4 separate regions of the Homo sapiens genome follow, and regions 2, 3 and 4 are each reported to be linked to region 1. The links are microRNA targets in miRTarBase. Many come from high-throughput screens and were not tested one by one. Region 1 holds a microRNA gene; each other region holds the end of a gene's coding sequence.
The links. The annotated mature microRNA hsa-miR-6718-5p reads UAGUGGUCAGAGGGCUUAUGA and lies in region 1 at 2,802-2,822, opposite strand. An mRNA with a match to its seed (bases 2 to 7 or 8) in the 3' UTR can be bound and repressed. Matches are read on the target gene's strand: a 7mer-m8 pairs with bases 2 to 8, a 7mer-A1 pairs with bases 2 to 7 and ends in A, and an 8mer does both.

Region 1 (5,506 bases):
GGACAATGTTAACTCACATTCTCACCTCTGTTAAGTTTTCTGTTTACTTCTTTTTTTTTTTTTTTTTTTTTTTTTTTGAGATGGAGTCTCACTCTGTTGTCCAGGCTGCAGTGCAGTGGCGCGATCTCGGCTCACTGCAAGCTCCGCCTCCCGGGTTCACGCCATTCTCCTGCCTCAGCCTCCCAAGTAGCTGGGACTACAGGCGCCCGCCACCACGCCTGGCTAATTTTTTGTATTTTTAGTAGAGACGGGGTTTGACCATGTTAGCCAGGATGGTCTCGATCACCTGACCTCATGATCCGCCCACCTCGGCCTCCCAAAGTGCTGGGATCACAGGCATGAGCCACTGCCCCCGGCCGTTTTCTGTTTACTTTTACGCAAAAGTGCCATGGTTTCATTTTTTAGTAGTAAGAACCATTTTCTTATTTTAAAAAGTAATAATTTAAAATCATCAGCCTGTTGGGCATTCATCATTCTCAATCTCTGTAGAATTGGGATTTATTATAAGTAAACGGGAAAATTAATTTTGTTCTGTCTAAAAAAAAATGTCATGTATGTGTTCAGACTGTGGTTGGAGCATGCATGTGTGAGCAAGGAGGTCTGAATCAGGAGACACTGCCGTAGCTGGCCAGGACATTGTCCTCCTCTCTTGGTATACTCCTTCTTTTCTTCCAGTCTTCTCTCATAAACTGCTCTTGCAAGAAATCATTGCTTCTTTGAGATCTTTTTGCCCCTCCCCACTCCCACATGTATTCTCTAACTACAGCTAGAGAAATCTTTAGCACAAGTGTGACCATGCCACTGTCTTGTTTAAATTCCTCTAATGGATTACCACCACCTGCAAATACAGTGCTGCATCCTGACATAGCTTCACCAAGGGTCTCATGATTTTGCCCTGACTACCTGTCTCACTTAGGAACAGGTGCAGGTGCAAGGTTCAGTACACAAAATTACAGAAAGCAAAATAACCGCGAGCTATTTTGTCTCCTCTCTCCACACAGACTCCCTCTGCAGAGCCCTTGGCTAAAGTTGTCACGTGGTTCAATAGCAAGGGACTCTGGCTTCCTATGGGGCCAGCGCAGGCCCTTCCTTTACTTGATAAGATAAGGAAACAAGATAAAGGTCTATTTTTCTCTCGACTAAACAAAATGCAGAGGTGCACATCCAGGGCGGATATGGCACTCCGCTGTAGGTCAGAACCTTTATCTTTTGTTTCTCTAATCCTCAAACTGTAACTTCCACCTCATGGGAAAGATCACTATTCACCCAGCCCCCACAGCTGCGTTCCAGCCAGAGAAGGGGTAAAGAAGCGTATGCCCCTCACTTTAGAGATGTTTTCCAGAAATCACACATGCCGTTTCAAGTTATGTTCCATTGGCCAGCATAGTCACCCAGGCACATCTAGGGAGAATGGAAAATGTAGTCATTGTTCAGGGCTGCTTGTACTTTTCAACAAGAAAATCTTTTCTTTCTCTTTAGTGGTATGTTATAACCTGGCATGGACAAGCTTCTGGCAGGTGGAGGGATGCCAAAAAGTTGACTTGAGAGATAGAGAGTTAGAAGGATGATCATTTAGAGGCTGGGAAGGGTAGTTGAGAGGTGTTGCTAAGGTGGGAGAGTGAGGATGATTAATGGGTACAAAAAAAATAGATGCAAGTCCGAATGAATGATAAGATCTAGTATTTGATAGCACAATAGGGTGACTATAGTCAATAATAATCTAATCGCACTTTTAAAAATAACTATAAGAGTATAATTGCATTGTTTGTAACAAAAAGGATAAATATTTGACGTGATGGATATTCCATTTACCTTGATGTGATTATTAAACATTATATGCCTGTATCAAAATATCTCATGTACCCCAGAAATATATACATGACTAGGTACCCACAAAAATTCAAAAAAGAAATTTTTAGGACAGCTTGACCCTGAAAAGATTCATGGAGATTTCCTCTTCCTGATGTCTCCTCAAACAAGAACACAGTGCCCCTGTTCTCCTGGGCAGGGTCCACCACTTTCTTTCTAAAGTAAGTCGCAATTGCCTGCCTGTCCATCCTCATGGGGTAAGACAGAGGAGGGCCTTCAGTATGCTCTTATTTCTGCATGTAAAGAAAAATCAAGAAAAGCAGCTCTAAATAAAGACATGCACAAAAATCAAAATGGAATAAGGACTTGCCAGCTTTGCAAGACTATTTCCCCTTTGTCAGCATCTTCTAATATGTGGTGTGTTTGTGTTTTCCTTGGGTCTAATAAATTACCTACCTTGAAAATTTCCTTTACAGTGCTGGATTATTCTTGTTTTGGTCATCATCTGGACAGTGATAATTCTGCTCCAGGTGTTGGAACTCTGGAAAAACTGTGCATCTCACACTCTGAGCTTGTCTCATGGCTGCAAACAGAGTCAACAAATTATCCAAGCAAAAAAATCAGGAGACATGGTACAATGGTAAAATTGAACTTAGAAGGACAATAAAACAGAATGTTGAAGTCACAGCGAACAAGAAGAAATTAGAGCTAATCACTGGTAGTCACAGAAACCCTCATGAAGACATGCTGACCACAGTCCCCATCCTTGCTCAAAGAACAAGGCCTGAAAGGCAATTTCCCTCTCTATTTCCAGCAATTGTTATCATTACTTAAAATCTAATTGAGAGGCTAGCATCCTCTTTTTTCAAGAATGCATAGAAGAATGAGAATTGTTATTTATCTCTTTTCATGTTTTTTTGTGGCTAGGTCATGAAGTGCATACATTGAATCCCTAGTGGCCAAAAGGCTTATGACATGGCTCTCACAATATATCATAAGCCCTCTGACCACTAGGGATTCACTGTAGGCATTTGGTCGTCTTTGCAGCAGCAGGCAAGGAAGCTTTCTAATGATGCTCTTGGTCACACCACAGGTGGCAGCAAGTGGTACCCATGGATACAACTTATAAACATTAATTAGGAGAGGGGGGAAAAAAGAAGTGACAGAGATAAATGTGCTGGAAAGGGAGTTTAAGAGTAAGGCAAGAGGAAAATGAAGAATGAGAGAAGGAAGAGCAGGACCTCCATAGTAGGTGCCACCAGCAATTGTCTACCCATTGCCAATGGCCTTAGGATTTTAGATCATTTGCCCTTGCTCACCAAGAAGTCACAGAATGTGTTTTCTTTTATAATCACAAATTGACCTATTTTCATTTTAAAATGACAAGACGATAGAAGAGAGTGTAAGATTTGTTACAGAAAGGGCCATGGTATTAAGTTGTTTATTTGGCCTTGACCAGAAAGATAGATTTAGCATTTAGAAATGTTTATTGCCATTTTTTATGACCTTCTTTTCCCACATCATAGAGAAAAAAGATCAAGATCTCAATATCTCTTTTACAAATACAAGTAAGGAAGGAGGAATGTTAGCTTATTTATTCTGGATGCAATTTGTTACCCTCCAAGAAAATAGAGGTGCTTGTCCTGTGCTGAAAATAGCCCAGTTAAATTTTAGTAAAAAACACACTGTGTATGATTAATTTACAGAAATTATCATTGGTTACATCATTTAACTTAAATCATCATTAGTGGCCTTAAACAGCTCTTCGTTTGCTCTGCTTGTCCTCAGGTAACGTCATCTTGCATGGAATGTTGCTCACATATTAAAGATAATTAAATACTGAATACCTGATTAAAATAATCTTGTATATTTTGGAGTAAACATGTATAATTCATGTTTTCAGCTCTTGCCAGTTTCACATTTTATTTAGCAGAAAATATCTACCCAAGATTCAAACTGCTTGAGAAGGAAAGTTCGAAACATTATTCCACATCATTTTATATATTGAGATTCTACTATATGTGATCATAAAAGTTAGTATGTGTCTATAATCCTAATAGAATCTTGTTTTTGCTTTTTATAAGTCTGTATTTGAAAGGCAAAAATGTCCTCAGTGGAACCTGATTTGTAGAGAGAGACTTTCTTATGCAATGGATTTTTGCATCTAAGTTAGTTTGTGCCACAGTTTTGCTAAAAACACATACTTAACCCTCTTACATTCTTCCTTGCCACAGCCTACTTTTAGGACCATAACTTCATACAAAGCAATCCCAAGGTTTTCTGTTTCATTAGTCTGTCACCAGTGGACACGTTTTTTACCTATCGGTTCTTCCTTATCCACAGGTATCATAAGTCCTGAATTCCTTTTTTGTCCCTTCAAGAGTCAGTTTCTCTCTCTCTTCCAGGCGGATTGCCCTCTGTCTAAGCATCCTGTAGTCAGCAGGTTAGGCAAACTCCCCAGACTTTACTTCCAGACAGGTAGAACGGCAGAAGGTACGATATTGCCCAGTGAGTTGCAGAGTTAGAAGTCAAAGGTATATAGGTCAGAAGGAGTGTTCACCAGTCTGCTTCCTGCCTTGCTCTGAAGACTGGTCTTTGGAATGGTCACCCTGATGGAATGGTCCCCCCAACTATTGGGCATCTTTCCTTGGCCTTGCCCAGCCTGGCCTTTGCCACACAGTCATGTTTTCATTAAACAGATGCTACTTGAATCACACTATGAACCACTTTGGGAAATTTTGCATTAATGCATTAAGTAATTGAGTAAATATTCTACTAACTTAATTCCCACTATCCACTAGGATAGCACTTTGCCAAATACTAGGTGGGTGAAACATAGTCCCTACCCTTAAGGACGTCACAATTTAGTAGACTAACAAATTTTGAGTGACTGTACTGATTAAAACCTTTCATCATTATTCCTGAATGGTCAATCCAGAAACTGGGAGACAGGAGGAAGAAAGGAGCTTCACAAAGCATGGATAGAGATTGCCAACATTGTCATGAGCGCTCCCAGATGCAGTATGTCTCATGGAATAGACAAGACCTGGCCTCTCAAAAATCTTTTTTCATGAGGTCCAGTGTGGGTGTTTTATATGTTTGTTTGTTTTTGTTTGTTTGTTTGTTTGTTTTGAGATGGAATCTTGCTCTGTCACCCAGGTTGGAGTGCAGTGGCACGATCTCGGCTTGCCGCAACCTCCGCCTCCTGGATTCAAGCAATTCTCCTGCCTCAGCCTCCCAAGTAGCTGATATTACAGGCTCCCGCCACCATGCCCAGCTAATTTTTGTATTTTTAGTAGAGACGAGGTTTCACCATGTTGGCTAGACTGGTCTTGAACTCCTGACTTCAGGTGATTCGCCTGCCTCGGCCCCCCAAAGTGCTAGGATTACAGGCGTGAGCCACCGCACCCAGCACTATATGTTTTGTTTCTTAATTAAACCACATATCTATCTCTCTAGGAATATCTGAAATGACATTAGTGATATTTTAGAGAGTCATGTTGGCTTTCCAAGATGACTCTTTATATGGCAATTTTTGTATTGTAGGAAGTCTTGAAAGAAAATCAGGCTGTCAGAAGGAACTTGGTCAGGCACTGACTCTAACACTGTTTTGGAGTCCAGAGAAAATACTCTGCCCTGATGGAATAGCAGCCTCTGTTAGTTACTAAAACTCCGGAAGATCCGAGCTTGGAAATGG
Region 2 (5,506 bases), not on the chromosome of region 1:
CCTCTTAAATTGTTAAGCACTTATGACTGAAATATTTGTGAATTGGGGGTCGATTTAACTTTTTTCTCAAGACAGGGTCTCACTATGTTGCCCAGGCTGGTCCTGAGCTTCTGGCCTCAAGTGATCCTCCCACCTCGTCCTCCCAAAGTGCTGGGATTATAGACATGAGCCACTGTGCCTGGCCCTGATTTAATTTTTTAATATAACAAGTTGCATATTCTCTAGTGTTTACACTCACATGCTTGAATTTACAATGCATCAGGCTCTTCTCAGCAGGAGCCTCATGGGTTTTAAACTAAACCTTCATGAGCCAGAGTAACCTGAGCATACTGAAAATCCAGAATCGGCCTCTAGCACCTAATAGTAATACTGTATTTTTATCAGTTCTAAAATGCATTTCCACGTCTAAAATTAGGATACATATTATAATCAGTAGTGGCCATAATTTATTTGGTAGCATCTTTTCTTTCTTAGAGGTAGATAAAATCATGGCATGTCTGAAAATGGATAGTGTCAGATTTGATAAGATACAGTAATGGGCCGGGCATGGTGGCTCATGCCTATAATCCCAGCACTTTGGGAGGCTGAAGCAGGAAGATCCCTTGAGCTCAGAAGTTTGAGATCAGCCTGGGCAGCATAGTGAGATCCTATCTCTACAAAAATCTTCTGAAAGTCAGCCAGGCATGGTGGTGGCATGCTCTTGTAGTGTTAGCTATGTAGGAGGCTGAGGTAGGAGTATCACATGAGCCCAGGAGTTCGAGGCTGCAATGAGCCATGATAGTGCTACTTCATTCCAGCCTGGGTGACAGAGTGAGACCCTGTCTCCAAAAGAAAGAAAGAAAGAAAACGAAGAAAAAAAAATACAGTAATGAGAACGGTAGCTAACATTTGTTGCGTATCTGCCACACACAAGAATTTTTCTATGTGCTTTATGTCTATTATCTCCTTTTATGTTTATACCATCCCTGAGGAGTAGGGATGTTCAGATGGAAAAAATCTAAGGCATAGAAGAATTCAGCTAGTAACTGATGGAGTTGAGGCTTGAACCCAAGCAACAAAATAGTTCCAGGGCTACGTTTTTAACCGTCCTTCCACTATGCTGTACTGCCTCTTCATAACTGTTTGGGTTTTTTCCCCTCTTTAAGGCATCGTTGGCTTCACAGTATGACTGATGATCCTCCAACAACAAAACCACTTACTGCTCGTAAATTCATTTGGACGAACCATAAATTCAACGTGACTGGCACCCCAGAACAATATGTACCTTATTCTACCACTAGAAAGAAGATTCAGGAGTGGATCCCACCTTCAACACCTTACAAGTAAAGACAATGAAGAACAGTTGAAACATGCAAAATATGGAGCTTTTCATGTAATTACTCTTTTACTGTTTACCATTCACTATAATTCACAATTAAAATTGTGTGACTAAACAATGTCTTTCGTGCCTTTTTGCCCTTCACTTTGTTGTTTTCCAACTGCAAAATAGATGCTTCCAAACATGGTGATTGAAGTAGACTTGTATTGGGGTAGCTGCCTGGTTTACAGTTCCCTTTTCTGGAAACAGCCTCTGTGGTCCTGTTTGTGCTTTGGGACCGTACCTTACTACCATAGCTCATTATATGGGAAGACCTAAGCCAAGCCAGATTTTCTCATGGGAATTTGGAACTTGAATGGAGAGACACGAAGGCTGAAAGTCATCAAAACTGGGTGGCTTTTATTGACGCTCTCTAAGGAGGTTATCAGAGATATCGTATTTCCTGAGTCTGGTTCTTTAATGGTTCATTTTAAACTGTAAACTATCCTAGACTCTATTCCAATATATTCTTAGTTCTTTAAGCTAACTAGGGTCACAGATTTTTTTTGTTGCTTACAAATAAAAAAGTCTTTAATATCCAGATTGGTACCAGAGGTAGGCAAAAGACCTTCAAGGAAATGATGCGGGATCTTTGGAACTGGTTGTTGTGTCTGGGTAGGGTGAAAGGCCCACATCTCTCTGCATTCCAGATGGAAAGCTCACAGCTCCAGTGATCAAGGAGCTTAGCAGGCTATTGCCTTTAGTCACCAGAATCCATGAGCCCCCTTAGGATAAGGCCCCTGGAGACTGGTTAGCAGCCACCATGGAACAATTTAATAGCAATGGAAAGAAATGCTAGGATTATGGAGTCAGGTGGTTGTTTCCAAGGGCATTGAATGACTTAAGAGAGAATAAACCTTGATTCTCAAATCTCAACTCAAGGCATCAAGTGTGTGAAAGGAAAATAAGTCTTGGGACCCCAAAATCACTAAGCCAAGGGAAAAGTCAAGCTGGAAACTATGTCAGGCAAACCTGACCCCCATTTTATCCCTAAATAAGATATTAATAGCTACAAAGATAAAAAGCTACATATCTCCTTCCTTGAAATTCCTTGTGGACAAAGGACAGACAGAACTCAAAGTCATCTCTGAGGCTCACTGGAGATAAATGCATACCGATTGCTTCCTCTGCCTTATTGTTTATTTAAAAATACGGATTCACTGAGCCGGACTAAAGTGTATTCAGTGGAAGGCTGCTCAAGAACTCAAAAGAATGCAACCTTTTGTCTCTTATCTACTTATGACCTGGAAGCCCCCATCTCAGGTTGTCCAGTCTTACCTGACGGAACCAGTGTACATGTTACACATACTGATTGGTGTCTCATGTCTCCCTAAAATGTCTAAAAGCAAGCTGTACCCTGACCACTTGGGCACATGTTGTCAGGACCTCCTGAGGCTGTGTCAGAGGCACAGCCTTAACCTCAGCAAAATAAACTTTCTGAATTGATTGAGACCTGTCTCAGATACCTTTCGGGTTATAAGTGAAACGCAGGGTAATTATATGAGTTAGCTTACCTCCTTGGTTTCCTATATGAAAATGAAGGGATAGAGTGGGACCCTGCCTATTGGTATAGGGACATCTAGAAGGAACTAGAACAATGGTCTTTGCCCTTGGCTGCATATTAGCTTTTTTATAATCTAGAAGCCAGGCAATCAGACCAGCATCTCTGAAGGCAGGTTCCAGGCATCAGTAATTTTTAAAACCTCTCCCTGCACCCACCTTGTGGTTCCATTTACAGCCAATGTTTTGAACAACTGTGCTAAAGAACCAACATGCAAAAACCAGTTATTTTGAAACTTCCTCATTCATAAGAAACTAGTCTACTACAGCCCTATGTCCTGAGTATCCCTTACTTAGCTGGATCAGGTTGAATTCAGTGCCTTCAAGAGACTATTCAGTGTGCTGTTTTGGCTTTTTGAGCCCTGGACTTTTGAGACAGCATATAACATACAGGTGTTTTGCACTTATTTATTTACCTGGTGACCTGAAAAGCTGGCAGAGCAAAAATAGTCCCTGTAGGTGGCCCAGTCTGCAGTCCAAGCAGCTCTGCTGCTCAGCCCTCTCAAAGTCTATCTGGCTGATTGGGAGACTTATTGAAGTCAGAGACAAATTTCTCCAGGAGAATCACAATGGAAGCCCACAGGACTTTGGAGCAAGGTCATACCCCCTTCTGGAAGATTACTATTCTCCTTTTGAGAAACGGTTCTAATTTGCTTCTGGGGATGTTGGAGGCTATGGGACACCAGGTGCTATTTAATCCATCTACTCATAAAGTTGACCATTTCCAGCAGCACTCCATCACCTAGCAGGTGGGACCAGACAGGCCATGAAGACACATTTCCTTTGAACAGATTTCTCCCGACCCTGTGCCTTTAACTACTCTATTCCCACACCTCGCCCCTACCAATCTGTCCCTTTACCCTTGTGGAGCATTATTATCCAGTTAACTGAAAATGAAAAAAACCAAACCTGGCTTACAGATACCATGAACAATAGGCACTATCAGCTAGAAATGTACTGTGTATATTTGGGGTGGTCTTGAAGGACAGTAGAGGGCAAATCTCAATTTGTAGGCAGAATTCCAAGCACTGTCTTTTATCATGTACTTTGACTTGAGAGAAACATGATCTGAGGTGAGGATCTGTAACCGTAACCAGTCACTGGCTAGATAGTCAGAGATGGAGAAAAGCAACATGGAAGATTAGTGTAAAAGTTTTGGGAGGAGCTTGGCAAATGAACCTTGAGGCTTGGAGCTGTAATCCAAAAAGATTTAGAACAAAGTAGCCAGATGATTACTGAGATCACCTTCTGGGAACAAATCTTTGTCTCAGTGCCTACTTCTTGAAGATCCCAACAGAAAACACATATCTAAGCCCAGTATCGTCAATGCGGCAAGTTCATTTCACGGGACTTCTTCCATATTGGAGGGAGAGATGATTTGTTTTTGTGGGAATAGGCACTTATTCTGAATTTGGGTCTGTTTTCCTTGCCTATCATGCCTTGGTCAACATCAGCATTCATGGGATTAGAATGCTTTCTACCTTGTCATATGTAGGACAGTGTCCGTGGTGGAGAAACTCACTTCACAGAAAAGAAAAGAGGCCTAGTGCAGTGGCTCACACCTGTAATCCCAGCAGTTTGGGGGGCCAAGGCAGGCGGATCACCTGAGGTCAGGAATTCGAGACCAGCCTGACCAATATGATGAAACCCCGCCTCTACTAAAAATAGAAAAATTAGTCAGGTGTGGTGGCATGCGCCTGTAATCCCAGCTACTTGGGAGGCTGAGACAGGAGAATCACTTGAATCCGGGAGGCGGAGGTTGCAGTGAGCCATTGTACTCCAGCCTGGGCAACAAGAGTGAAACTCCCGTCTCAAAAAAAAAAAGACAGTGGAACTGCCTGTGGGAGTCCCTGCTTGTGTTTATGATGTGCCTTACTGACCTACCTCTCAGATATCATCTCTCATTTCTCCCTGCATCACCCACTACAGGTCAGCCACACAAGCCTCTGTCTAATCTTCAAAGACTGGATTCATTCTCGTCTTAGGTCTTTGCACTTGCTCTTCCTTCTGCCTAGAATATTAACATCTTTGTGTTGCTCCTTTTTTTGGTATCATTCATATCTTACTTTACAAGTATCACCTCCTCAACAGAATGTTCTGTGTCCATCTAATCTAAAGTAGCTTCCTCAGGAACTTCCTATTATTGTTTATTTGTATGAATTTCCTTGTTTTATTTTATTCATAGTACTTATTGTTACTTTTTGGGAAAAGGCCTGAACAAAATTATTCCAGTAAAGAATCTGTGTATTGAGCATTTACTAAACAGCCACTGTCCACCTACAAAAGCACTCTACATGTAGACATAATGAAGCAAAACTGTATTGATTAGATTTAGGGCAGGGTGCAGTGGCTCACGCCTGTAATCCCAGCACTTTGGAAGGCTGAGGCAGGCAGATCATCTGAGGTCAGGCGTTTGAGACTAGCCTGGCCAACATGGCAAAAACCCGTCTCTACTAAAAATACAAAAATTAGCCATGCATGGCGGCACATGCCTGTAGTGCCAGCTACTCAGGAGGCTAAGGTAGGAGAATCGCCTGAATCTGGGAGGCAGAGGCTGCAGTGAGCTGAGATCACGCTGCCGCACTCTGG
Region 3 (5,506 bases), not on the chromosome of region 1:
AGCAGTCACACCCGGTCCCAGGGCTTTCAGCGGTATCTCTGAGTTAAGTTTGTGCAGACTGGCATCTGCATGCTGATGGCTCCCTGAGCTCCAGACTCCTGTCCAACTGCCTGCCTGTTGTCTTCACTGGATATCCCACGAGCATCTCACACTTTACATGTCTAAAACAGCTCTTGGCCTTCTCCCCTAAACTCTTCCTCCTCCTCTTCCCTGTTTCAATAAATGACTCCACCATCCACTTAGCCGCTTGATCAGAAACTTAGGAGTCATTGTGGACACACACACACATACATACATGTACACATACACACACAGACACACACATATACATGTACATTCTCTTACGTGACAAATGTCCATGTTACCAGGCCTCACTGTGTCATAGCTGTCATTTTGAATGGCTCTTTTCCACTGATTGTGAGCTCCACCAGAGCTTGGACTATGTTCTGCTCATCAGTGTTCCCAGGGCTTAACAGGGACCTGGTTGTCAAGTAGACACTTAATTGTTAAATAAATGAATTAATGAAAGAACAGACCAGTATAAAGTGATTGAAACACCTCACTTACCATTTCACTGACTATTAACTGAATCCAAGATAAGGTGGCCGCATTTGCATGTGATCTGTGCATCCCCGAGTCTGAGCCTGACTGGCTGAAGGGCTGTCAACAGCCTGCACAGACGTCCTTTAAGGGCTGGTAGCCAGGGTTCGGGGAGCTGATGGTTGTTCTCTCCCTCAGGTCTACTATCCATGGCCAACTCTGGCCCAAACACCAATGGCTCTCAGTTCTTCCTGACATGTGACAAGACAGACTGGCTGGATGGCAAGCATGTGGTGTTTGGAGAGGTCACCGAAGGCCTAGATGTCTTGCGGCAAATTGAGGTATGTGGCCAGGAATGGGCCTCCTCCTTACCCAGGCCCTAGGAGCACAGCCCTGTGTGAGGGCTGGAGAGTCTCTGTGGCCTGAGAGAGATGGCCAGGGGCTGTGTCCAGCGGGAGGGGCTGCTGCTGCCCAGGTTCCGGGGTGGAAGTGGGCAAATGGGCAGGCAGGGGTTGGTATCCCTAAACCACTGTTAGTCTCCGGCCTTACTCCCTCACTTCTATTCTGCCACAAAGGCCCAGGGCAGCAAGGACGGGAAGCCAAAGCAGAAGGTGATCATCGCCGACTGTGGGGAGTACGTGTGAGGCGGCACTCTCTCTGCTTCCCCCTCCGCTCTTGACCCTGCATATCCAGGAAGGAACTGCCAGCCTCAGAGGAGGCAGCACCGAGGGTGCCTGTTTGAAGCAAGCAGCATTTGGGATATGTGCCCTTCCTCAGGGTCTGCTTGGAGCAGCTCCTCTGCAGGCACAGCCTGGACTATTCCCAGGCACAGCTGTGGGCCCAGGAGCCAGCTCAGGTGCTCCCCTCCACCATGGGCAGGCTGTGCAAAAAGCCACTGGCTTTTCTCAGCATTTGCTGCTGGGCCTCTCCTGGGACTACCAGTGTGGCTCTTACGTGTTTTCTTTGCTAAAATAAACCCTAGTTCTTATATTGCTCTTCCTGCTAGTTCTTGGGAGTTGTCAGAGATTGTGTCTGTGGCTAAGCTGGACCTCTGAGGCAGGCTGGTGAGTGGGGAGAGCAGAGCATCTTTTTCACAGCTTTCATTTCCTCCCTTGGGCCGATCCCCTTAGATGTCAGGTGATGTATCTTCACACCAGGCATCGATGTCAGGGCAACGGAAATTAAAGACTGGAAAGCTCCGGTCTTCTGCTGCCTCTGCTCCTAAACCCAGCTGCCGGCCTTACAGCCAGCAAGTGTACTCTCAGTGGTTCATTTGTTTATTTGTTCACTTTCACCCTACAGATTTTAAAAAATGAAATTTTTATAACTCAAAGTGCCTTCTCTGTGCCAAGTACTATGCCTATTTGTCAGGAGACAGGAAGCCAACAAACTACATGTGCCTAATCCAGCCCACTGCCTGTTTTTATGAATCAGGTTTTATTGGAACACAGCCACGTCCATTTATTTACATATTGTCCATGGTGGTTTCTTACTGCAGTGGCAGAGGTGCGTAAGGGGCTATAGACACAATACAGGCTATGGTCCCTGTATTAGGGTTTTCTAGAGAAGCAGAACCAATAGGGTGTGTATATATGTAGAAAGAGATTTATTTTAAGGAACTGGCTCAAGCAGTGGTAGGAGCTGGCAAGTCTGCAATCTGCACAACAGACCAGCAGGCTGGAGACTCAGGAAAAAAACTGATGTTGCAGTTCAGCTCTGAGGCAGTTTGGAAGCAGAATTCTTCCTCCAGTGATCTCAGTCTTTTTTCTCTTAAGAATTTCAACTGATTGGATGAGGCCTACCCACATTATGGAGGGTAATCTGCTTTACTCTCTACTGACTTAAATATTAATCCATCTAAAAAATAGGCCAGGCATGGTGGCTCATGCCTATAATTCCACCACTATTGGGAGGCTGAGGCAGGAGGATCACTTGAGCCCAGGAGTTCAAGACCAGCCTGGGCAATGTAGAGACCCCCATCTCTAGGGGGAGAAAAAAAAGCCAGGTATGGTAGTGCACACCTATAGTCCCAGCTACTCAGAAGGCTGAGGTGGGAGGATCGCTTGAACCTGGGAGGTTGAGGCTGCAGTCAGCCATGGTCATGCCACTGTACTCCAGCCTGGGTGACAAGAGGGAGACCCTGTCTTGAAAAAAAGAAACCATCATCACAGCAACATCTAGACTAGTGTTTGACTAAAAACTGGATACCATGGCCTAGCCAAATTGACACACAAAATAGACCATCACAGTCCCAAGGCCTAAAATACTTACTATCTGAGCCTTTACAAAACAGGATTGCCAGCCACTGAAGAGAACAAATGGTCCCACCCCCTGCTGAGCTCACAGTCTGGCTCTCCTGTGTGCAGCCACTTCTTGGAGCTGGCTTCTCTCCACTCCCCCTCCAGATGCTGGTCAGCCAGGCGGTTATAAAGAATCTCATCTGCTGAAGGCTTTTAGCAGGGACTGAGTCCTGTAGCTGTTGGACACCTCCTGTGGGTTGGGTCACTCAGACCATTCAGAATCCACTGAGCTGAGCTTTTGCATCTTGGATTGAGATCTGGATGAGCCAGGAGGCAGGAGAGGCTAGGTGGTCCTCATGACCCTAGGATAGCTCTTGCTGAGGGATGGTGGCATTCTGCCCTACCTCTGGCTCCCATGTGCCGACTGGACTTTGTGAGCTCCAGCTGCTACAGTTGACTGAGTTCAGGCTCCATGTAGCTGGGATATACTACATGGTTACCCCTCACCCCTATGGAGCTTCCAAAAGAGACCCTCCCTCAAAGCACAGCCCCTTCTCTGAGTGCAAATAATGGCCATCAGAGGTCAGTCACAGGTGTTAGGCAGGCATCTATGAAGCTGGGGATGATAGCACTGACTTCAGTGCTTGGACGAGAACCAGGAGAGAGTGTGTAGAAAAAGCACAGCCAGCCTCCCATAAAAGGACAGACTCCTGTGACAACCTTGTCACTCTGTTCCTCCCTGATACTCTGGGGAGGTGGAGGCCAGTGGGCAGTTCTGAAAGCTCAGCAGGTTTGGAGCCATTGGGTGTGGACTCCTCTCCCAGTGTTCCTCCTGGGTGTTCACAGATGTTATTGAATGCACACTGGAACCCTGCACAGGTAAACTGAGGCTTTATTGGCGTGACTGCCAAAGGTCACACAGGGTGGTTTGGCAGAGCTGGGATTAGAAGCCCAGCCTGTCTCTCTTCAGTAGTAATGGAGTCCTGGGAGGTTTACTAGGCTTTAGCCTCAATCTGTGGCGGCAGGGTCCACAGCCCTGGGGAGTGACACAGTCATGGTCCCCATGATTGGCCAGGACCTGTGTGGAGAGACACAGGAGACAAGACCCTGCTCTTCCAGGCCAGAAGGGAGGGGAGCCCCAGAGCTGGGCAGTGGCATGCCCCACAGCCTGGCCACCTGCTTCGGCTACGCACCATGCAGCAGCTGCACCTGGCTGCCTCGGGAAAACTCTGACCTCTCTGGGAAGTGGAGCCAGTGGCTCTGTGGGCGTCCTTTCCTGCAGCCTGGAGAGCAAAGCGGCTTTCCCTGGGACTGTGTGGCTCCTGTCCCAACTGGCCTCCCCATTCCACATTCCCATTGCTGGACCAGCACCAGGACTGGGCACAGGGCTTCCTTTTGCTGATTCATTTCCCCCCTAACTCATTCAGAGTTGAGCCCCATCTGAGTCCCCACATGCTGGCCCTGAAACGGTTACAAAGGCTGAAACCAGGGATGGCAGGCCCAGGATCAGTGCTGTGGCTGTTGGAGTGTCCTCTCCAACAGCATGACAGCCGCCTCCAGGTGCTCCCAGCATCTGTTGCAGTCATGGCAGCCTCACGGCAACCTCTGAAGAAGGAATTATAGAACCAACTTTTTATTGTTGAAAATGGAGTCTTGTAGAGTTCAGTGATGGGAAACTAAAGTAGAAAAAGCACATCACAAAGAAACATATATAGTACAGTGTGATCCCAATTTTGTAAAAATATCTGTAATATGTAAGCATAGGTATTTGTATATCTTAAGAAAAAAAGCCTAGAAATAAAGCCACAAAAATATTAATAGTGTGTTTATTTGACTTGTGGGACTGTAGTGATTTGAATTGTATTTTATTTTTTATATATCCCACTTTCCTCCAAAACTGCATTATTTTTTTGAGAAGTGAAAGACATTTTTGAAAAAGGGGGTCAAGTGCCCATCCAGGGTTCCTTTCAAAAAGGGGGCCAAGCAGTTGACCTGGATGGGCAGTTCCCCCATGCAAATTGCCACCCAAGACACCTGGTGGGTACAGACCTCTCTCAGCAGGACATGGGATCCCATTGTCTGGGAACACAGCAAAGTTTCACAGCCGCTGCCACAAGTGACACTTGCTAGGCCTTTAAAGGCTATAAGAATACAAGTCCCGCCCTCTGAGGGATGCCATGTGTAGATGGTTTAGGAAAGAGCACAGCTCTGAAATAAATACATCATCACCTGCAGAACACATTTTGGTTTAATGGACAGACATAGAAGTGGCTCAAAAATAAGCAAATTCATTTGTAATAATACCAGCAAATACCTATTGTTAAGCATTTATATGTCAGACATCCCAAAGATTTGTGTACATATTTAGTCTTTATAATAGCTTTGGGAGGAAAGAACCAATATCATACTCTACAAAGGAAGAAGCAGAACCAGGATTCAAATCTATTTGGCACCAAAAATCTGCCTCTTGCTACACTGCCTCTATTCCTGTTTCTTTGGACCTTTTCCAGAACATGTTACTTCCCTGCCTCAGTTAGAAGTTAGTGACTACGAATCCCCTGCTGACTTGGCCTCAAGGCCAGTATTGCACCGCAAGGACCAAGACTGCTGGGCATTCCTCTTTTGCCTGTTGTATGCGTCCTCTCTTCCTGTCAACTGTCATTGATTTCTCATTGCTGTCAGTAGATCTGAAACAACCACCACCATCATCCTTCCAACCCTCATCT
Region 4 (5,506 bases), not on the chromosome of region 1:
TCAGCTGGACAGGCTTTTCAAAAGCTACACACCTCCCTCTCTCCTTCTTCTCATCAGCTTTCCCTGAGAACCACTGTCTTAAACTTTATGATCCCAGTTAGTCTGATTTCATTAACTGATACAGATTGTTTGCTTTCATTAACTATTTTTGGCCTTCTGTAACATATCTAAAGTAATGTTGACCATGTATTTCTTTTACAGGGTTGTGGGAAGAAAATGTATTCCTTTTTGAGAGGAACCAAACAACTGCAGGTGCTGAGGTTTCTGGGAATCTCCATTGGGGTGACACAAATCCTGGCCATGATTCTCACCATTACTCTGCTCTGGGCTCTGTATTATGATAGAAGGGAGCCGGGGACAGACCAAATGATGTCCTTGAAGAATGACAACTCTCAGCACCTGTCATGTCCCTCAGTAGAACTGTTGAAACCAAGCCTGTCAAGAATCTTTGAACACACATCCATGGCAAACAGCTTTAATACACACTTTGAGATGGAGGAGTTATAAAAAGAAATGTCACAGAAGAAAACCACAAACTTGTTTTACTGGACTTGTGAATTTTTGAGTACATACTATGTGTTTCAGAAATATGTAGAAATAAAAATGTTGCCATAAAATAACACCTAAGCATATACTATTCTATGCTTTAAAATGAGGATGGAAAAGTTTCATGTCATAAGTCACCACCTGGACAATAATTGATGCCCTTAAAATGCTGAAGACAGATGTCATACCCACTGTGTAGCCTGTGTATGACTTTTACTGAACACAGTTATGTTTTGAGGCAGCATGGTTTGATTAGCATTTCCGCATCCATGCAAACGAGTCACATATGGTGGGACTGGAGCCATAGTAAAGGTTGATTTACTTCTACCAACTAGTATATAAAGTACTAATTAAATGCTAACATAGGAAGTTAGAAAATACTAATAACTTTTATTACTCAGCGATCTATTCTTCTGATGCTAAATAAATTATATATCAGAAAACTTTCAATATTGGTGACTACCTAAATGTGATTTTTGCTGGTTACTAAAATATTCTTACCACTTAAAAGAGCAAGCTAACACATTGTCTTAAGCTGATCAGGGATTTTTTGTATATAAGTCTGTGTTAAATCTGTATAATTCAGTCGATTTCAGTTCTGATAATGTTAAGAATAACCATTATGAAAAGGAAAATTTGTCCTGTATAGCATCATTATTTTTAGCCTTTCCTGTTAATAAAGCTTTACTATTCTGTCCTGGGCTTATATTACACATATAACTGTTATTTAAATACTTAACCACTAATTTTGAAAATTACCAGTGTGATACATAGGAATCATTATTCAGAATGTAGTCTGGTCTTTAGGAAGTATTAATAAGAAAATTTGCACATAACTTAGTTGATTCAGAAAGGACTTGTATGCTGTTTTTCTCCCAAATGAAGACTCTTTTTGACACTAAACACTTTTTAAAAAGCTTATCTTTGCCTTCTCCAAACAAGAAGCAATAGTCTCCAAGTCAATATAAATTCTACAGAAAATAGTGTTCTTTTTCTCCAGAAAAATGCTTGTGAGAATCATTAAAACATGTGACAATTTAGAGATTCTTTGTTTTATTTCACTGATTAATATACTGTGGCAAATTACACAGATTATTAAATTTTTTTACAAGAGTATAGTATATTTATTTGAAATGGGAAAAGTGCATTTTACTGTATTTTGTGTATTTTGTTTATTTCTCAGAATATGGAAAGAAAATTAAAATGTGTCAATAAATATTTTCTAGAGAGTAATGATTTGTCTCTGCCTACTTTTTAATACATTACAAGCACTTATGCCACTTGAGAAGATTGTCAAGGGGAGAAAAACATGAGAAAGAATGATTGCATAAAGTATTAATATTGATTTCCAAACTCCGGAATGGACCTATAAGAATATGTATTTTCACTGAGAAGAGTCAAAAAGATGCCCATTTTTCACTTTTGCTTTTTACCTAAATGTTAAATAATATACTTGTTTGAGATAATATAAAAATATGCCCATTTGTGTTCATCTTTTCAATGTTTGCATATCACAGTTTTATAACTTATTAATTTTTAAGAGACTATGAGTCTCTTAGTTAATTTCAAATTCTCTTCAAATGAGTTAAGGAATATAATCCTTGAAATTGACTGCCATGTTTAAAATCTTCCATAGATTTTAATGAAAACTGAGTACATTACTTGTTCAATCAGAGCCAAAAGCATCCCTTTTAATAACTTCCTCAATACCCCAAATCCCTGTAATTTCACCTAAAATACCCACGTAACTGAGATAGCTATGTATGAGTTTTGTTTGAATTATTTGTATAATGGTCAAATTTAGCTGCTGCTTTTTTTGATATGTCTTACAGTCACAGCAAGAGCAAGCATATAATATGTTGGGCTCAGTAAAATAAAAAGTCCTCAAATTATAAAAGTTGCTTTCTACATTTTTAGACCTCAGATATTTTGATGTATTACCTGATACACTACCCTCTAGAATGGTCAACATAAATTTAGACAATCGTTTTGTATATAATACACTTGCTTAATGGGAATGAATGACATTTATAGCAGTAGCTCACAAAGCCTCTTATGGTAGCAGTGCACCTGGAATAATAAAACTGCAAGGGAGTTAAAAAAGTATATTTAATGCAGTAGAGCTGAGGGAGTTCACTATTTGGGTACATTGCAAACAAAACTGTTAACTGTTTCTTTGGGAATTTTTAAAAGCTTTCTTTGGTTAAAAAAAAAAATCACCATTTTTTAAAAGTAGAAATTTAAGAAGATTATTTTTAGACTGGTTAAAAGTCCATTCAAAGTGCCCTGGAGACTCAGAGATGGCAACAAGAGATGATGTCTGTCCTTAAACACTGTAGAATCTGGGTTAGAGACACTTGTGCTAACCACAGGAAAAATAAATAAGGGAATATGCAGTGAGTGGGGCCCTTCTTAAGAATAAGAGATGGAGTAGAGTGGAATTAAGGCAGCTATGCCAAGGAGATGGCGTTCAAGCTGGATCAGAAGGAGCAGTGGAGTCTAGCTGGCTCATGGAAAATATTCCATGAGCCATGAGTTTGAGGTTAAAAAGTATACATTATTTTGGAGTTATGACTTATGGTTCAATGTGGTTAGATCATAGAATGATTGAAGAGATGCCATGGGACAGGAAATGAATGAAATTTGAGTTTGGGTGCTTTGTTCTGTAGGCCCAAAGTAAAGTCACCGAAGCAATTTCAGAAAGAGAAATGATGAATATTTCATTAATTTAACTGGATTAGCCAAGTGAGAAAGAGGGGACCAGGAGACAGTTATACTTATTTTGCAACTCCTGGGTGGGTGGGCCACCATTGACCACAGCCTAGGTAAGTGGAGCACTTGAGAGTTGTACACACTGCAGGCCCTGGCAGGAGACTGAATAGATTGCTGTTGTTGTGGTCCTGGAGAGGGATAAGGATCCTCACCAGGACAATGGAAGTCAAAAAACAGAGTGCATAAAACAGATCACAACAGGGTGAATCCACAAAAATTGGCAGTAGCTAGACCTCAGGGAGTGTGGGACAAGAAGTAAAAGTACTGAAATTTCTGGATTTTGTGCCTGGCAAATTGGCAATGGCATTAACCTAGATGGAAGACTGGAGGGGAACGAGTATGAGAGGGTAATTAATTTGGTCTGAGACACAGAGTTGGAGATGCCTGCAGGACATGCAGATGGAGATGTCTACAGGCAGCTGTAAATTTCAGTCTGGAGCTCAGGAGAATTCACTGTCAAGCCTGAGAATTTTTATGCATTGCTTTCCCATCTCAGGAAGCCTGACAGAAAATGGGCTGGGAACCAAATCTTATATGAGGAGAATCTTAAATAGATTGCCACAGAAGCTTCCTTTTGTCTGAATTCCCTCTCCTGTGGATGAGTCAAGGGAGGTAAAGAAAGAAGAAATCACTATACTACTGAATCTTCTCTGGCAAAGAAGCTGCCCCTTTTTTAAAACACTGCCAACTGCTATGTTGCTTCACCCAACCCCCTTCCTATTGTCATCCTGAGATTTACAAGCAGATTCGTCTCCCCTGTGAACTGAGTTCTCATTTCCTCACATCCTAGAAACATATATAGGAGAATCTTTGGTATCATCTTGATCTTGAAAGCTTTTCTTTTTCTATTTTTATGTGTTAATTGCAATCACTCTTTACCTCATACTTTCAGGGGTGCGTACTAGGTACCAGGCACATGTAGGAGGTGCTTTACACTTATTTTCTCTGTTCTTCACAACTCATTTGCAATTTGCAGGCACCCCACTTTATTTTACAAATGAACAAGAGGGACTCCAAGAGACTGAATACATTTACTTAGCTAATATGTGGCAGAGCTATACTTCCACTTTCCCCATTTTGTGGCATGGTATCTTCACCAGCCTGTGGTGAAGCTCAGATGATTCTTTACCTAGAAAAGCCAAATTCTCCTACATGTAAATCAATATCACCAGGCCAAATCAAAATGATGCTCTTGTCTAACCTCATTCCTACTATTATTTCCCAAGAACAAGTATAAATTATCTAAAATATCTTGTACACACACATACACACACAGGCAAATTAAGTTCTGTTTTTTTTGAGACAGAGTCTCACACTGTCACCCAGGCTGAAGTCAGTGGTGCAACCTCGGCTCACTGCAACCCCTGCCTCCCAGGTTCAAGCGATTCTCCTGCCTCAGCCTCCCAAATGTCTGGGATTACAGCTGTGCATCACCACGCCTGGCTAATATTTTGTATTTTTAGTAGAGATGGGGTTTCACTATGTTGACCAGGCTGGCCTTGAACTCCTGACCTCATGATCCGCCCACCTCAGCCTCCCGAAGTGCTGGGATTACAGGCATGAGTCACCATGCCCAGCCCAAATTAAGTTCTTTAATCAACTTTATTGAGATTTTATATACATATATATATAAAAACATACTATATATATATACACACACACATACACACACACACACCCCTAATAAATATACCCCTTTCAAGTATATAGTTAATTAGTTTTGGCAACTATATATACTCATGTAACCACAACAACAATCGAGATCTAGAACATTTTCATCGTGTCAAAAAGTTTCCTCTTGCCCATCTGTGATAAATCCTGCATTCCCCTCTCCTAGCCCCAGGCAACACTGATCTGTTAACTATCACTCAGATTAATTCTTGTGAAACTTTATTCTTATCTTGCTGCTTCCTTACTCGAACACTTCCAGAGGTTCCTTGTTGTAAGAAAGGCAGAGCTTCCCAACTCATTCATGTATATGTTATTTATAAGACACGCTAGGATACGTGAAGCTCAGGGGCCACTGGCCACCCTAGGCCTTGCCTGGCTACCATGAGGACTACAAGGAAGCAATAGCTCAATTCAAAATTTTGGCTGCTATATTAGAGATTTCAAAATACCGTGGCTTAAACAAAATAGAAGTGAAATTTTAGCTCATAAAATGCATATGTGAGTAACCCGAACTATG

Region 2: miRTarBase lists NDUFA12 as a target of hsa-miR-6718-5p. The part of its 3' UTR that is shown has no 7-base or 8-base seed match.
Region 3: miRTarBase lists PPIE as a target of hsa-miR-6718-5p. Seed matches in the 3' UTR shown: 7mer-A1 at 2,440-2,446.
Region 4: miRTarBase lists TSPAN12 as a target of hsa-miR-6718-5p. Seed matches in the 3' UTR shown: 7mer-A1 at 1,285-1,291.

Annotation. Positions count from the first base shown.
Region 1 is chr18:3,882,679-3,888,184 of GRCh38, reverse strand. It overlaps MIR6718 (microRNA 6718), which reads right to left and starts at 2,832; the gene lies at 2,753-2,832. The region is part of intron 3 of DLGAP1 (DLG associated protein 1); the gene reads left to right. All of the region lies in intron 1 of DLGAP1-AS3 (DLGAP1 antisense RNA 3), which reads right to left. It overlaps LOC124904238 (a long non-coding RNA gene), which reads right to left. Exons shown (of 4, transcript XR_007066270.1): 3 at 2,266-2,392; 4 at 888-1,401.
Region 2 is chr12:94,967,260-94,972,765 of GRCh38, reverse strand. NDUFA12 (NADH:ubiquinone oxidoreductase subunit A12) reads left to right here. Exons shown (of 4, transcript NM_018838.5): 4 at 1,146-1,433. The coding sequence ends at 1,326. Among named protein-coding and RNA genes, the nearest start is that of NDUFA12, 34 kb to the left of the region's middle.
Region 3 is chr1:39,752,172-39,757,677 of GRCh38, forward strand. It overlaps PPIE (peptidylprolyl isomerase E), which reads left to right. Exons shown (of 10, transcript NM_006112.4): 9 at 739-881; 10 at 1,116-4,598. The coding sequence ends at 1,184. It overlaps BMP8B (bone morphogenetic protein 8b), which reads right to left. Exons shown (of 7, transcript NM_001720.5): 7 at 5,011-5,506. Among named protein-coding and RNA genes, the nearest start is that of PPIE, 16 kb to the left of the region's middle.
Region 4 is chr7:120,783,593-120,789,098 of GRCh38, reverse strand. It overlaps TSPAN12 (tetraspanin 12), which reads left to right. Exons shown (of 8, transcript NM_012338.4): 8 at 202-1,779. The coding sequence ends at 507. Among named protein-coding and RNA genes, the nearest start is that of TSPAN12, 72 kb to the left of the region's middle.